2 separate regions of the Homo sapiens genome follow, and region 1 is linked to region 2. The links come from fine-mapping of genetic effects on gene expression. Tissue or cell type: whole blood. Region 2 holds a variant in brackets; the other region holds the start of a gene. All regions are shown on one strand. Distances are between the middles of the regions.

What was found. PIP is the estimated chance that this variant, and not a neighbour inherited with it, causes the effect.
Region 1: NOC4L starts here. The variant in region 2 is fine-mapped to the expression of NOC4L in whole blood (TOPMed, PIP 0.90).

Annotation. Positions count from the first base shown.
Region 1 is chr12:132,139,451-132,147,771 of GRCh38, reverse strand. NOC4L (nucleolar complex associated 4 homolog) reads right to left here and starts at 3,315. Exons shown (of 15, transcript NM_024078.3): 1 at 3,167-3,315; 2 at 2,798-2,918; 3 at 2,107-2,213; 4 at 384-491; 5 at 1-139. The coding sequence starts at 3,283. It overlaps DDX51 (DEAD-box helicase 51), which reads left to right and starts at 3,453. Exons shown (of 15, transcript NM_175066.4): 1 at 3,453-3,779; 2 at 3,863-4,077; 3 at 4,894-5,044; 4 at 5,350-5,495; 5 at 5,582-5,653; 6 at 5,816-5,922; 7 at 6,166-6,274; 8 at 6,352-6,497; 9 at 6,752-6,941; 10 at 7,037-7,152; 11 at 7,233-7,349; 12 at 7,573-7,674; 13 at 7,848-7,911; 14 at 8,003-8,137. The coding sequence starts at 3,476. RefSeq lists enhancers at 3,233-3,532, 4,462-5,367 and silencers at 3,543-3,592, 3,663-3,862.
Region 2 is chr12:132,097,596-132,105,916 of GRCh38, reverse strand. It overlaps the pseudogene EP400P1. Among named protein-coding and RNA genes, the nearest start is that of DDX51, 43 kb to the left of the region's middle. The variant T/A (reference allele first, on the strand shown) is at 3,864.

The sequences.
Region 1 (8,321 bases), 42 kb before region 2:
GGCCAGTGACCCGGGCCACGGCATCCACGGCTGCCTGCATGGTGTGGTAGCGGGTGTCGTCGTAGTCCAGGTACTCCCGGAACTGGGACAGGAGCAGGCTCTGGTCCTCCTCAGGAGACAGCAGGCCTCCCACCACCAACTAGGGGCAAGGACCAGTGAGCAGCCCTGCCCGGCCCAGCATACGCCAGCAAGGTCCAGGCAGGCAGCCCTGCCCCATCGAGCCCCCCAGGCAGACTCCTCCTGGTTGGGTGGGCCACAGGAGCCACAGGAGTGTCCCAGCCAACAGCCAGGCTCAGCTCAGCAGGCCCCGCCCCCACTACGGGGCCATCCTGGGATCTGGCCAGCCAGCCAGGCCCTCTGGGAGTCCCCAGCAAGGCCCTCACCTTGAAGAGCTCTCGGGGGAACAGGTAGTTGCCTTCCCACTTGGACTTCTCCAGGGGGTGCGCTCCTTCCAGCTGCACGAACTTCAGGAGTGCGCTGAGGGCCAGCTCCTGGGAAGGGGGCAGTGCAGGGTGGCTGTGATGCCCTCACCCCACGGATGGGCCCAGAGCTCAGCCCAGTCAGGGAGCCCCTCCCATCTAGGCCCAGAGCTGAGAAAAGGGCGGCCGGGCCTTCTCTTGCTCCACACGCCACCAGATGCCACTCTGGGCTTCCGTGTCCCACCCATGACGTAGAGATGACAAGATCTCTAGTTAAAGAGATCCAGTGCTCACGACAGAGTCTGGCGGGGGAAGGGTACACAGCCCAGGTCTGCTTTATGGGCCACCTGACTGCTCTCTCGTCACCTGTGTCACGGGAATGCCACCATAACCCTTGGGAACAGCTGTGAAAACACAGGCGTGTGATGCCAGCATGGTGCCCAACTCAGACCCAGGCTTGGAAGCTCTCATCTCGGGGTGGCAAACTCAGTGCTTTCAGGGCCCAGGCAAATGACACCACAAAGCAAAAGAGCCTCGTGCGGGATGACAGGAGCACACGGCTGTCTCAGAGCTGTCTCTGACTCTCCCTCCAGCCAATCGCAGCCATGAACAAACTTAGACCCCGTGTTGACAGAACTGATTATTTCTTTCTGAGAAGGTGGAAACTGGTTATTTTCACGTGGTATCTCCCCAACATTTAAAAGTCTGCAGCTCGGCTATAATTATAGACAGACGTGTTGGCGAGGATGTGGAGTATGGAACTCTCAAATGCTGCCAGGGGGAGGGTAAGATAGCGCAGCTACTATGGAAAACAGTCTTGTAGTTCCTCAGAACATTAAAAACACAGCTGCTGTGTGGCCTTGTAATTCCACTGATAAGGCATATTCAAGCAAAAGAAACATCACACAAGAGTTTGTACGCGAACGTTCACAGTCCGCTGTTCGTAACAGCCAAAGGTGGAAACGACGCAAATGCCCAGCAACCTACGAGCGGCTGAACGATACGTGCTGTGCTATACGACGCGCTGCTACTCAGCCACAAAGAGAACGAACTTCGAACACGCCGATGAGTGGAAGAAGCCACATACCGTATGATCCCCCTTATGAGGAGCGTCTAAAAAAAGCAAACCCATTGATCCAGGAAGTAACCACTGATCCAGGAGTGGCTGCCTGGGGCTGGGGGTGGAAAGGGGCGGGATATGGAAGCGATGGTAACTGGTACAGGATTTCTTTTCGGGGCGATAAAGATGTTCTGGGATAGCGGCAACCACTGCACAACACAGTAACAGATGCTAACTTCTCAGCTTTAAACGGTAAACTGTGCCTCAGTTATTCCTCACTACAGATTTTAAGAAAGCTCATAATGCATTCCCATGGCTGCAGACCACAGTGTGATCTGAGCAAACACATCTGTGGACTGGCACGAGGCTTGGTGTGCGTGCTCTATGCAAACACAGAGATCCCCGTGGATGCCACTGGAAATGAACACGGATTCTGCGTCTTCAATATTCACTACAGGACTCGATAGCCATGTTTCTGAATGGGACTGAACACCCACAGGGTGATGCTCCCATGAAGGAAGCAGCTTTGCCTGGACAATTGTGGGAGCCCCAGACCTCTGCTTTGTGGATAACCTGGGAGTTGGGGTGCAGGGGATGGACAAGGATGAGGCCAGCCCAATGACCCACCTTGACCTGAAAGGAGGGGTGGCCCAGGAGCTCTCCCAAGCGATTGCAGCAGCTGTGATAGCGGTGTCTCATCCACACCTTGTACTTCCGTGTGGCTCCCTGGGACCCTGCAGACAGGTTAGGGTGGTCAGCCCACGTGAGGCCCACATACGCCACCCTGGGCCCAGCCCAAAATCTCAGGCCTGGCTCCACCCTCCCATTGTCTTCTACTCAGCCTCCGCAGGTGGAAACAGGTCGCTAAGGCCCCCAGACCTGTGCTGAGACCAGCACATTCCCTGAGCCCTGCAAACAGGAAGAGCACCTCCTACCCCAGGACTGCCCCAGCCAAGCTGCCAGGAGCAGGATCCACATCCCCTCTCTTTACTCCAAGACCTGACGTCCCCAGGATGGGGACATAAAGGAAGCTCCGAGTTTAAGCGACCGTGTCAGGATCAGTCAACATCAAATTACAAAAGGGGTGCAAAGCACACAAAAAGTCGTACCTTGTCCAGTGTTCATCTACACTCAGCTGCAGGGCACCCATGTCACCCCTGCCCCAACGCCACCATCCATCTTCCACGGTGGGCTTGGTGCGTCCTCCCACCAGCCTGCACGGCCTGTGCCAGGGTTGGGGGCGCTCATCCCATGGTGACAAAGCCTCCCTCCGACCCACGGAAAGAGAAGAGCAGCCCCGGGGCCCTCCAGGGCTCACCTGTCATGACCATCTCCTCAGAGGGCAGCTGGCCCACAAACAGCTCTCCCCGCTCCAGCAAGGCCCCGAAAAGACGGCTGCACGTGCGGACTGCTTCCTGGATCTCCTCCTGGTCCTCAGACTGCAGGAGAGGCGGCGGCAGGGTGCCCGGCCGCCAACTGTCACCTTCGCCCCTGCCTAGGCTGCCCCCAACCCGTTCCCTTCCCCCTCGGGACGCCAGCCCCGTCACCCCCGACCCGTGACCCACACGCCTCCCACCCTGACCCCCCAACGCCGTCTCGGAACCTCCTGGGGACCTGCCGCCGCAGCCCCCCATTCAAGTCCCGCTCCCGTGCCGCGACTCCGGCCCTGCGACGCCGCCAGGCCCACCTGCAGCACGGCCAGGATGTCGAACACGGCGTTGGCCTCACTGCGGCTCGCCAGCACCGCCTCCAGCCGGCGGCCCAGAGCCCGGCGAACTCCCGCGGCGCCCGGCTCCCGCTCCATGCCGCCCCCAACACGGAACAACGCGGATTCTCAGCCGCCGGCGCTCCCGTGACGTCACCACTGCGCGTAGAACCCGACGTCATCTCTACGCGCCGTACCCCAACCCCATCTTTTGCGCGGAGCCCGAGTCGCAGGCGTGCCGCCGACGTCATCGCAGCGCGCCACGCCCGAGTCCCAGGCGTGCGGCTGGCCATGGCGCTGTTCTACGTCGCGCGGTACCCGGGCCCCGATGCGGCAGCTGCGGCGGGGCCGGAGGGCGCGGAGGCCGGGGCGCACGGCAGGGCCCGCGCGCTGCTCGAGCGGCTGCAGAGCCGGGCCCGCGAACGGCAGCAGCAGCGGGAGCCCGCGCAGACCGAGGCGGCTGCATCGACCGAGCCGGCGACCAGGAGGCGACGGCGGCCCCGGCGGCGGCGGCGGGTGAACGACGCGGAGCCGGGGAGCCCGGAGGCGCCGCAGGGAAAGCGACGGAAGGCGGACGGCGAGGACGCGGGCGCAGGTGGGCCGCGGGGCGAGCGGGCTCCCTCTGGGGCGCCGGCGACTCGGTGCTGACGCGCTGCCGGGTGGGTGTCTGCCTCGCAGAAAGCAACGAGGAGGCGCCAGGGGAGCCCAGCGCAGGGAGCAGCGAGGAGGCGCCAGGGGAGCCCAGCGCAGGGAGCAGCGAGGAGGCGCCGGGGGAGCGCAGCACCAGCGCCAGCGCCGAGGCGGCCCCAGATGGACCGGCCCTGGAGGAGGCGGCCGGACCCCTGGTCCCCGGCCTGGTGCTGGGGGGGTTCGGGAAGAGGAAGGCGCCGAAGGTGAGCCTCGGCGGGCGGGAGGGTGGTCGGCGTGAGAGGGTAGGCTGCGCGGATTCTTAAGTGCGGCGGTCGCCCCGGAAGATTTCGTTCAGCGAATGTTCCCGGGTCACAGCCGCGCCTCGCTGCCAGGTCTGCAGTTTCATCGCCTAGGGGTCTGGATCCTGCACGTGCAGAGCTCCCGTTTCCTCTGCTAGGCTTGCCCCTGTCCTCCCGCCGCGCCGCGCCAGTTCTGCAAGATGTGTTTGCGTGAACGTGCGGGGTTTCCTGCTGTGCGCTCACCGCCTCAGGAGTAAGTCAGAGGCCGTTCTGCAAGCTCCTGACCGTTGGTGTTTTTGCTTAGCACGTGTGGTTTTCGGTAAAGAGATTTCCGGCGAGACAGGTGAAGAAAGCGAGAAGTTTGACAGAGTGCTCGGGCACCTTAGGTAGGGCAGGTGGAGGAGGTTCTCTTTGAGTTGGGATGCAAAGACTTGAAGCCAGGTCAAGGTTGGGGGTTGGGGGTGCCAGGCAGAGGCCTCGAGGCAGGGACGCCGGCGTGGCTGGGGCAGGCGAGCGCCAGGTCACAGGACCTCCTGGCTGCGGGAGGGTGGGTGCCACTGTGGGTTGATGGGAGGCTACAGAGTGAGTTTGCTCAGGGAGTGGCATCTGCTTTTACTGTTTAACTTCTGAAGGCTGTATGGAAAGCGCATCCTGGGGCTGAGAAGGAGCTGAAGACGACAGAGGTTTCCCCAGCCTCCCTCCCCTAGCTTTTTCCACCGTGGGCTTCTGCGCGAGAGCCTGGAAAGCGCTCACCTGGCCTCTCTTTCTTTTTGATGGCAGGTCCAGCCTTTCCTGCCAAGGTGGCTGGCTGAGCCTAACTGTGTCAGAAGGAATGTCACCGAAGACCTGGTTCCTATCGAGGACATCCCTGACGTCCATCCTGACCTGCAGAAGCAGCTGCGGGCACACGGCATCTCGTCCTACTTTCCAGGTGCCCCAGCCCCGGGCAGGCAGCTGAGGGAACACCTCCCTGGGCACCCACACACAAGGCTGTGAGTGGCCGTGGGTCAGGCGTCCCTGCCACATCGGTGCCAAGTGTGGTCTCAGCACTCTCAAGCTCATGGTTCCCACTTGGGTCTCCTGAGGCTGGCGTTCCTCTGGGCCTTGGTGCCATCCCTCTGGGGAGCGGTTCCCAGGCCTCCAGCAGAGCAGCCCAGCCCAGAGGTCACAGGCAGGGAAGCGGCAGGCCTAGGCCTAGGCGTAAACACGACTTCTCTCTCGCCTTTCCTCATCCAGTCCAGGCAGCTGTGATTCCTGCCCTCCTGGAGAGCGCAGCCTGTGGGTTTCTGGTGGGCAGAGGTGGCTACCGGCCTAGCGACCTCTGTGTTTCTGCCCCAACAGGCAGTGGGAAGACACTGGCCTTCGTCATCCCTGTGGTGCAGGTCTGTGTGAGGGTCCCCTTTCTCTACAGCGGGTGTGCAGAGGACAGGTAACAGCCTTGCTGACGCAGGCGCTCCTTCCCCCTCAGGCCCTGCTTTCGAGAGTGGTCTGCCACATCCGTGCCCTGGTTGTGCTGCCCACCAAGGAGCTGGCCCAGCAGGTATGTGGACCCTAGACCTGGAGCGTGGCACCGCCCGCCTCAGCTTCCCTGCTGAGTGCACAGCGATCAGCCCCTGGGGGACCCAGATTAGATCTGGGGTCCTTTTTGCTGCAGTAGGTGGACACCAGCTACCTCCAGGCCAGTGACAGACTTCTCCTGCAGGTGAGCAAAGTTTTCAACATCTACACAGATGCCACACCTCTGAGAGTCTCCCTGGTTACGGGACAGAAGTCTCTGGCCAAGGAGCAGGAGAGCCTCGTCCAGAAAACGTAGGTTGTGTCAGGGTGCGGGTTTTTCAGGGGGTCCCTGCTCAGCCCTGCAGGTGGCCTGAGGCACCGTGGGAGCAGAGGAGGGGCCACCATCTTTAACCACCTGTTCCCGTGAAGAGGAGGAGCTCCCACCGGCCCCCTTCCCATGTGGGGTGGAGTCGGGGCTGTGGGGTGAGGCAGCGTCTTGCTATCCGGAAGCCCTTGAGAAAGCTTCCTTCTCTCGAGCTGCTCTCTGGTCTGTAGAGCTGATGGGTACCGCTGCTTGGCTGACATCGTGGTAGCCACCCCCGGCCGCCTGGTGGACCACATCGACCAGACCCCAGGATTCAGCCTCCAGCAGCTCCGCTTCCTGGTAGGTCCCCGCCCCAGGGGCCTGGGCTTTGAGCTCAGGGCCGCGCCACCCAGTCCCGGGCTCCCTGTCTCCTGCAGATTATCGACGAGGCTGACCGGATGATTGACAGCATGCATCAGTCCTGGCTGCCGCGGGTGGTGGCGGCCGCCTTCCAGAGCGAGGACCCCGCGGACCCCTGTGCCCTGCTCCAGCGAAGGCAGGCCCAGGCTGTGACAGCCGCCAGGTATCCAGCAGCACGCCCAGGTGCTGGCCTCCCCTGAGCAGAGTCCTCTGCACACAGCTCTCCTTCCTTAATGCCCAGAGATAAGGGTGGCTTGAGCTCTGGTGCACAGAACCGCATCGTACTGTCACGTGAGCTGGACCCACCTTGCTCCTGGTCTGCGGCAGTCTCTACAGTGCGTAGCATGAGGAATCCTGTTCCCTGGAGGTTCGGGGCAGCCACTGGTAGGGTGCCAGCAACACCCCCTTCTCTTCCAGCACCTGCTGTCCCCAGATGCCCCTGCAGAAGCTGCTCTTCTCAGCTACTCTGACCCAGAACCCTGAAAAGCTGCAGCAGCTGGGCCTCCACCAGCCCCGGCTTTTCTCCACAGGGCTAGCACACAGGGGCCTGGAAGATACAGATGGGGACGGGGATTCGGGGAAGTATGCCTTTCCTGTTGGGCTCACGGTGAGTGGGATACCGTGTGGGCAGAGGGTTGCACTGGGAACCTGGGGCCCCTAACCAACCCTCACCTCCACCCCGACCCCCTGCCGTCCCTGTAGCACCACTACGTGCCCTGCAGCCTCAGCTCTAAGCCGCTGGTCGTCCTGCACCTGGTCCTGGAGATGGGCTTCTCGAGGGTTCTCTGCTTCACTAACTCCCGAGAGAACTCCCACAGGTGAGGCCCCGGCTGGGCGGGGGTGGCAGAGGTGGCCTCTGGTCCCAGCATCACTTGGCCGCAGCCTTCTCTCTGCCTAGGCTCTTCCTGCTGGTGCAAGCTTTTGGGGGTGTGGACGTGGCTGAGTTCTCCTCGCGCTACGGGCCTGGCCAGAGGAGGATGATCCTGAAGCAGTTTGAACAGGGGAAGATCCAGCTGTGAGTTCCTGGGCAGGGGCAAGGCCTCTGTGGGGTGGGGGTGCCCACTCCAGGGTCAGCCTGGGGCTCTCTAAAAGGTGCTTCCTTCTGCAAATTGGCTTCCTGTGCCCCAGCCCCATGGCAGCCAGTTCCCAGAAAGGCCTGAGCTGCCCCCCGCAGGGCCGGTGCTGCCACGGCCCCTGCTCCTGGCACGTCGGGCCCACAATGCTGCGTGTCCCGGCAGGCTCATCAGCACGGACGCCACCGCGCGAGGCATCGACGTGCAGGGTGTGGAGCTGGTGGTGAACTACGACGCCCCCCAGTACCTGAGAACCTACGTGCACCGGTGAGCGCTGGCGCAGCGGCCACTGGGGGGTCTGGGGCTTTGTGAGCTCCTGGGCGTTGATGTGGGACCGTCTTGACTGGCGTGGGGTGGGGTTGGTGTGGAGAGAAGCTGTCGTTCCGTCAGACTCTTGAAGGCTCAGGGGCCAGTCTGGAGATAGCTGCGTTTGATTCCAGGGTTGGGAGGACAGCTCGCGCTGGGAAAACTGGACAGGCCTTCACACTGCTCCTGAAAGTGCAGGTGAGGCTGCGAGGGTCTTGGGAGTTTCTGCTGTTGGTGGGTGTTAAGGGGCTGGCCCAAGAACCCCCTTCCACCATGAGCTTCTCTCCAGGAGAGGAGATTCCTCCGAATGCTAACTGAAGCTGGGGCACCTGAGTTGCAGCGGCACGAGCTCTCCAGCAAGCTGCTGCAGCCGCTGGTTCCTCGGTACGAGGAGGCCCTGTCCCAGCTGGAGGAGTCTGTCAAGGTAAGGGCACCAGAGTCCGGCATGAAACCCTCTGGGGAGGGCGTTTGCAGAGAGGGCGTCGTCACCACACGTGGAGAAAAGAGGGAAAAAGAGGAAAGCGAGAAGGCAACAGAGGGTCACACAGGTTGTCCTCGAGCTTCTGGCCCAAGGGCGGGGAGCCCCTGGGCACCAGTGGTGGAAACAC
Region 2 (8,321 bases):
GTAGGTTGCAGTGAGTGAGCTGAGATCGCACCACTGCACTCCAGCCTAGGCGACAGAGCAAGACTTTGTCACAAAAAAAAAAGAAAGAAAGAAAGAAAGAAAATGAAATTCTATAAATTTTTGCTCTGTATATTCTAAGTTAGAGCTGTAACTTGTTCAGAAACTCTTGACATTGAGATGTGTGTTCAGGAACTTGGAATCTTGGCTTTGAGACCAGCCAGCCCTGACTGCAGGCAGCTGGCAAGGGTGGACTCTGGGGTTCTCATCTTGCACGGCACAACCGTTTAGGAGCAGGCAAATGTGGTGGCATTCCAAGAAAGGTGCCAGGACGCTGCCGCCGTGAGCACCTGCCACAGAGGTGCCTGACTGAACACCACTGGAGTTTCCATGCTGCTGGGGGTTCAGCCATGTGCTGGGATCCCTGGAACCACCCTCTGTAAATGTGGGGAGACTCTGAGGGACTTTAAACCACTATTCACAGCCACAGTGTGTCTTTAAAGTGAAGTGCCTAGAACGCATGCTCTGAGATGGTAAGCTCTGCGTTGCACCTGCACGCAGCATAAGCCCTGAGCTCTGCCTCCCATGACAAGCACCAAAACAAAGAACTGTTACCTCATCATTAATGACTTCAAAGTGCTCCTCTTCCTCTTCTTCAATGTCCAAATCATTCTGCCTAAGATATGCTTGTAATGGTCCATACAGTCTCTCCTTGAAAGCTAAGAAATCCATCATGTTCCCTTGAAAGTGTTGCAAGAAAAACAGTTCAATCAAATACTCCTTGAAGACCTCCTTCAGAGCCTGCATCTCCTGGTGATGATAGTCCAGGCACTGCTTCCTCATCTGTGCCATCTCCGGAGAGGCTGGGGGAATCTCCTCTAACTTCTTGGGAACCTTCTTCATTCCCGTGTTCCCCACAGACGTGAGTGGGAGGCTGGAAAGGCCTGGGGGCACGGCAGTCCTGGAAGGGCTGGTGGGCGGGGGTGGGGACGTCATCCCAAACCCCGCTGCGCCCCCAGCCCCGGGGAGCAGCACGCCGGGCGTCCTCTCGAAGCCCAGGGGCCGGGGCAGCGGCGGCCCCTGCAGCACCTGCTGCTGCTGAACCAGCTGGCCCTGGATGATGCTGCTGATCTGCGGTGGCAAGTTAGCCGTGGTGATGTGGCTTGGGCTGGCCAGGGGCTGCAGGCCGGCCCCACCCGCGGCTGCAGGGCTCTGGGGTCCCAGGTGGTGGATGGTGCCCCCTGACTGTGTGTGGGGCTGGGAGGGTCTCCGCTCTCGGACTGTGATGGGCGTACCCGGGTGCTGGAGCTGAACCTGGGCTCCCTGGGCGATCTGGGTGAGCCCTGACCCATCCTGAAACACAAAGTGTCCACCACTGGAGGGGCTCAAGCTGATCTGCCTCACCAGCACGCTGGCATCCACGAAGTCCCCTGTAGGGCTGCTGCTGCAGAGGCCCAGCCCAGGGCCAGGGGCACCTGCACGCACATTCTGCAAGGCCTGCCCCGGCCCCGGACTGGGCTGCGTGGGACTCTGGGTCTGGACCTGCTGGGACAAGGGGGACGTGACCTGAATGTATGATGGAGACCCATGCTCAAACCGCCGAGGCTGAGCGCTGAACTGGAAGCCTGGAGAGGTGGGGCTGGGGAGCGGCAGTGGGGCCAGCGTGACCTGTGGGCTTCCCTGGAGCCCAGGGCCCACGCCCTGCAGGTCAACATTCATGTTCTGCCCACCCGCAGGGCCCCCTCTCACCATCAGCTGCTGTAGTTGGTGGCTGGGGGATGGCAGTGTGAGGGGCAGGGACGGCTGGGAGCACGCTGGCTGCTCCTCGCCCGCGCCGGGGCAGGCCCCAGGCCACTGGACATGGCGCTGGCTGCTCTGGGAGCTGCTGACGTGCTGCATGACTACGTCTTCAGGAAATGCTCCCTAAACAAATGCAGAAAAGTTAGAGTTGAGTGAGGTGAGCTCCATGCCCGGGCGCCTTTCGGAGCCTGCACAGGTGTCTGGAAAGGTGGCTCAGGAGGGGCCAATGCGGGCCCAGCAAACCCCAGGCACGAGACTGCTACCCAGGGCAAAAAAGGCTCAGATCAGAATATCTGCTCAGCAAGAGATGCTCGGAAGCTTCCCTGCCTCACACTTTTCTCGAACTGAAGTATTCATACCTGCCTAATCCAAGTCTACCGCAAGGGGCTGAAAGTGCTAGCGATGAAGAGCATGGGAGGGGGAGAAGGGAGAGAAGTACAGCACAGCAGGGCATCCCCAGCGGGTGGCAGACGGTGGCTCAGGGTCACAAAGGTTCTCTACGCCCCTTACGTGATCTCATTTAGTTTTCACAGTCATGCCATGGGGTCACTCCTATTGATAGCCCATTTACACAGAGAGACACTGAGGCAGCGAGAAATGAGCTCCCTGGGCTGTAAGGTCCAGCTCTACAGGGCTTAGCGGGTGTTCTCCCCGTGTGCGGAGACGAGAGATTGTAAGAAATAAAGACACAAGACAAAAAAATAAAGAGAAAGCAGCTGTGCCCGGGGGACCACTACCATCAACACGCGGAGACCGGTAGTGGCCCCGAACGGCTGGGTGCGCTGATATTTATTGCATACAGGACGAGGGGGCAGGGTAAGGAGGGTGAATCTTCTAAGTGATTGACAAGGTGAAGCAAGTCACGTGATCACACGACAGGGGGCCCTTCCCTTTTAGGTAGCTGAAGCAGAGAGGGAAGGCAGCAAATGTCAGCGTTTTCTTCTATGCACTTATAAGAAAGATCAAAGACTTTAAGACTTCCACTATTTCTTCTTCTGCTATCTACTAAGAACTCCAAAGAGGAACCAGGAGTGCAGGAGGAGCATGAAAGTGGACAAGGAGTGTGACCATTGAAGCACCACAGGGAGGGGTTTAGGCCTCCGGATGACTGCGGGCAGGCCTGGAGAATATCCAGCCTCCCACAGGAAGCTGGTGGAGCAGAGTGTTCCCTGACTCCTCCAAGGAAAGGAGACTCCCTTCCACAGTCTGCTAAGTAACAGGTGCCTTCCCAGACACTGGCGTTACCGCTTGACCAAGGAGCCCTCAAGCGGCCCTTATGCGGGCATGACAGAGGGCTCACCTCTTGCCTTCTAGGTCACTTCTCACAATGTCGCTTCAGCACCTGACCCTATACCCGCAGGTTATTCCTAGGTTATATTAGTAATGCAACAGAGTAATATTAAAAGTTAATGATTAATAATGTTTATACTAATGATTGATAATTGTCCATGATCAGCTCTGTATCTGATTCGTATTATGACTATTCTTATTCTAACTATTTTCTTTATTATACTGAAACAGTTTGTGCCTTCAGTCTGTTGCCTCGGCACCTAGGTAATCCTTTGCCCACATCGGGCCAAGCTACGAAGTGGTGGAGCCATGGTCCAGCTCCAGGCACACGGGCTCCGAGGCCCATGGGCCTCACTATAGGCCAACACCGTGGACAGGTCCTGAGCCTGCCCCTGAATCTGGGACTTGGACACTATCAACCCCAGTGCTAAAACATCAGTTCCACGGATGTGATCCTGCATGAAGACTGAACACTTGATGGACGGTTTTCATCATTTAATCTGTCCTGAAGGACTCAGTGCATACTGCCTGGTAGAAAAAGGCAAAGGGAATCTGTTCAGAAGTAGTCATTCCAGAGACAGGCTGGAAACACGGGCACAGAGTGCACCTGAGGCACTCCAGGTGTGGCCTGACCCCGGCTGGGAGGAGAGTCCAGCTCCCACCTTCCTACCATGACAGTAGACCCCAACTGCCACGTGTTTTTTAATGAAGGACATGTATTACAGACAAATGCATTTTATGGACAGCTTAGACCTGATGTCTTTTCCATCATCACC[T/A]TCATAGAAATTCAAGGGAAACATTCAAAAAGCTGCAAAGATACCACCCACTACAGAAGCCGCCTCTCCTAACGCCTGATGCTCAGGGACACAGTAGACAGTGCTTACGTGAAAACGGTGCAAGCTCACATCCAGCACGAGGTGTGGCGAGCCAGGCAGGCACGAAGCGACGCTTGCCAGCAAAACCACTATAAAGAGTGCTTGATAAACACACTCTTTATGTTTGATTTTAAATGGAAAAATTCAAGATCCAAAATTATGTAATTTTAAAGATGTAATAAAAAGACTCAAAATGTGTCCACAGGTGGTGGTCTCTGGGTTAGGTGGATTATAATGATTTTTTCCCTTTTTATACTTTTTTATGCTTTCTAGATGTTCTCTAATTACTATGTGGCATTTTTATATCCACACGGAAAAAAAGGCATCTTTTTAAAAAGTGGTTTTCCTGGCTGGGCGCAGTGGCTCACACCTGTAATCCCAGCACTTTGGGAGGCCGAGGCAGGCGGATCATGAGGTCAAGAGATCAAGACCATCTGGCCAACATGGTGATGTTGGCCCGTCTCTACTAAAAATACAAAAAGTAGCTGGCATGGTGGCAGGTACCTGGAGTCCCAGCTACTCGGGTGGCTGAGGCAGGAGAATCACTTGAACCTGGGAGGTGGAGCTTGCAGTGAGCCGAGATCGTGCCACTGCACTCCAGCCTGGCGACAGAGCGAGACTCTGTCTCAAAAAAAAAAAAAAAAAAAGTGCTTTTGCTTACTAGTAAACTCTTCTTCCAGGTGTGCAAAGTTTGCACATGAGGGACTGTAATCTAGTAAAATAATAATTAGAAGGTGCATAGAAGATACAAGGCAAAAAACTATTTGTACATTATTTCTAACTCAGAACACCTTTTCCTACGGAAATGCAATGACTACAGTCTCTTTCTAAGATCAGATAGATCAGTGGCTCTGTACTTCGGAAGACTGTGCCCGCAGGGGACATCAGGCAATGTCTGGAGGCATTTTTGGTTGTCACAACTGATAAGGGTGGGAGAACTGCTGGCATTTGGTGGGTAGAGGCCTGGAGGTCTCTAACCATCCTACAACACACAGCACGGCCCCACCAGGAGGAATCTTCTGGCCCCAAATGTGAACCAGCTGAGGCTGAGAACCCAAGACTGAGGAGGTGGCCCTGTGGGGCTGACCCGCCACACCATCTGCACCGTGTGTCCAGGGCTGAGTGAGAGCATCTCCTTGCAGTCAGGCCACCCAAGCACACAAGGAGGCAGCCTGGCCCTCAGTGGCAGCCAGACTGACCCCGGCTCTTCAACTTATTGACCGGGAAGGGGCCACTGACACTCCTGAGAATCTGGTGAAAGCTGTGGACTGTTCTTACCAAACACACCTCACAGCCACAAGCTTTACATGTTTACACATAAGGGACTCTAAGAACCAGACCCTCAGTTGCCAGTAAGGGAATGAGGCCAAGGGAGCTAGTGTCTCCTCATGGGGCAGAAGGGCAGCTGGAGTCCCCCTGAGAAAGCCCAGCCTGGGCGGGCCGGCCGGCAGGACCAATGGTGGGCAAGAGTCCTAAGTGGACCACAGAAGGTCTGGGGTTAGCAGGCAGTGCCTGGGCTCTGGGGAGGCCAGATGAGGGGAACAGCGAGTCGGAGTGCACAGGAGCCTGTGCTTGTACCTGGGAGGAGGGGCCGGTCCTCTTCCATGACTGCTCCCCGTGACAGGACTCCCACCACAGCAACGCTCAGAAAGAGGACAGTGCACACGTCCCCTTCCCACAGCCCTAGTCAGAGCCTCCCGCCAGCCCTGATCACAACACAAAGGGCTGGCGGTGTCTCCGTGCCTGTGTGCCCTAGGCACACACACTGTCGTCTCCAGACACCGCTTTGGCCGCTGGTAGAGTCTGCATGAGGGCAGTCAACACACGGCCAAACTGGAACTCTCTGCCCCACCACAGGTTTCTGCAGTCTCCATGCAGCAGACATCCCTGGGAGCCCCCAGGCTGCTGGGCAGGGCTTCCTCCTCAGTTCAGATTCTCCTCCACAGACGGTGCTTTTCCTGAGGTGGAGTGCAGCAGAGGACCCTTCCTGTCACCCTACACTGACGCAGGCCTGGAACTAGAAAACGGGCTCAGAATACTCCGGGGGCACAACAGAGCTGCAGCAGGGAGAAGGAAGAGGAGCCCTCCCCGGGCCATGCAGGCAGGCCAGCAACAATCAGAACGCGTGCTGGAGGAGGCGAAGGCCAACCAGCAGTTCATCCGTATTCGTCGTATTAGAGTGAACTTAGTGTATTAGAGTGAATCCCAGCACTTTGGGAGGCTGAAGCAGGCGGATCACTTGAGGTCGGGAGTTTGAGACCAGCCTGGCCAACATGGCGAAACCCCATCTCTACTAAAAATACAAAAATTAGCCAGGCGTGGTGGCACACGCCTGTAATCCCAGCTACTTGGGAGGCTGAGGCAGGAGAATTGCTTGAACCCCTGGGAGGCGGAGGTTGTAGTGAACTGAGATCAGGCCACTGCACTCCAGCCTGAGTGACAGAGTGAGACTCTAGTCTAAAAAAAAAAAAAAAAGAAAGAAAAAAGACAAAGATTTTTCCAAATGTACAAAACTGAAAGAATTCACCACCAGCAGATGTGCAGTACAAGAAATGAAGGACATACTTTAGGAATAAGGAAAACAGATCCAAGGTGAAAATCTGGTTCTATATAGTAAACTTGGGAAGAAGAAAACTTCCTCGACCTGATAAAGAATCTCAGTGGCTACAACAGCTAATATGATACTCGATGGTAAAAGCCTGAAAGCTTTCCCTCTTAAGACAGAAACAAGGAAGGGATGTAATACAGTTTGGATCTGTGTCCCCACCAAACCTCATGTCGAATTGTGATCCCCAGTGTTGGAGGAAGGGCCAGATGGGAGGTGACTGGATCATGGGGGCAGTTTCTCATAGTGTTACACCATCCCCCTTGGTCGCAACAGTGAATTCTCATGAGATCTGGTCATTTTAAAAGTGTGTATCACCAGCCAGGCGTGGTGGCTCACGCCTGTAATCCCAGCAGTTTGGGAGGCCGAGGCAAGTGGATCACTTGAGGTCAGGAGTTCGAGACCAGCCTGGCCAACTTGGCAAAACCCCGTCTCTACTAAAAATACAAAATTAGCCAGGCGTGGTGGCGCACGCCTGTAATCCTAGCTACTCAGGAGGTTGAGACAGGAGAATCGCTTGAACCTGGGAGGCGGAGGTTGTAGTGAGCCAATATCACACCACTGCACTCCAGCCTGGGTGATGGAGTGAGACTCTGTCTAAAACAAAAAAAGTGTGCATCACCTCCCCTTCTCTCTCTTACTCCTGCTCTGGCCATATCGTGTTCACTCCCCCTTTGCCTTCTGCCAAGATTGTAAGTTCCTGAGGCCTCCCCAGAAGCCGAGCAGATGCCAGCATCATGCTTTCTGTACAGCCTGCAGAACCGTGAGCCAATTAAAACTGTTTTCTTTATAAATTACCCAGTCTCAGGTATTTCTTTATAGCGGTGTGAGAACGAACTGATACAGGACATCCTCTCTCAGTACTTGGACTCAACATGGAGATTGTAGCAGCACAGTCAGTCAAGAAAAAGAAATAAAACACAGACAGACTGTAAGGGAAAAAGATTAAAGCCCTTCATTCTCAGGCAAAATAATCATCTCTGAGAAAATCCTGCCAGGCACAATGGCTCACGCCTGCAATCCCAGCACTTTGGGAGGCCAAGGCAGAAGGATCACTTGAACCAAGGAATTCAAGACCAGCCTGGGAAACATAGTAAGACCCCATCTCCACAGAAAAAAAAAAATTAGCTGGGGGTGGTGGTATACACCTGTAGTCCCAGCTACTTGGGAGACTATAGTGGGAGGATCACTTGAGCCCAGGAGATAGAGGTTGCAGCGAGCTATAATTGTGCCACTGTACTTTAGCCTGGGAGACAGAGTAAGACCCTGTCTCAAAAAAAAATTATTTCAAAAAATATAAAATACTCAAGAATAAATCTGATAGATGTGCAAGACCTGTACATCAAAACCACAAAACACTGCAGAGAGAAAATTTTAAAGACATTAATAGTGCTCATGAATCAGAAGACTCAGTATTGTTAATATGTCAGTTCTCCCAAAATTGATCTAAAAATTGAATGTAATGTCAATCAAAACCCCAAGAGGCTTTTAACAGAAATTGAGAAGCAGATTTTAAAGTTCATAAGGAAATGCAAAGAACCTAGAAGAGCCAAAATTATGAAAAAGACAAAAAGATTTAGATTTCCTGACTTTAACGTGTATTATAAAGCCACAGCAATTAAGACAGCGTGGAAATGGAACAATCTTACAGAATGCCAGAAATAGATTCACATATACATGGTTAATAAATTTTCAACAGAGGCGAAGATCATAAAGTGGAGAAAGGATAATGTGTTCAAAAATGATGCTGAAAC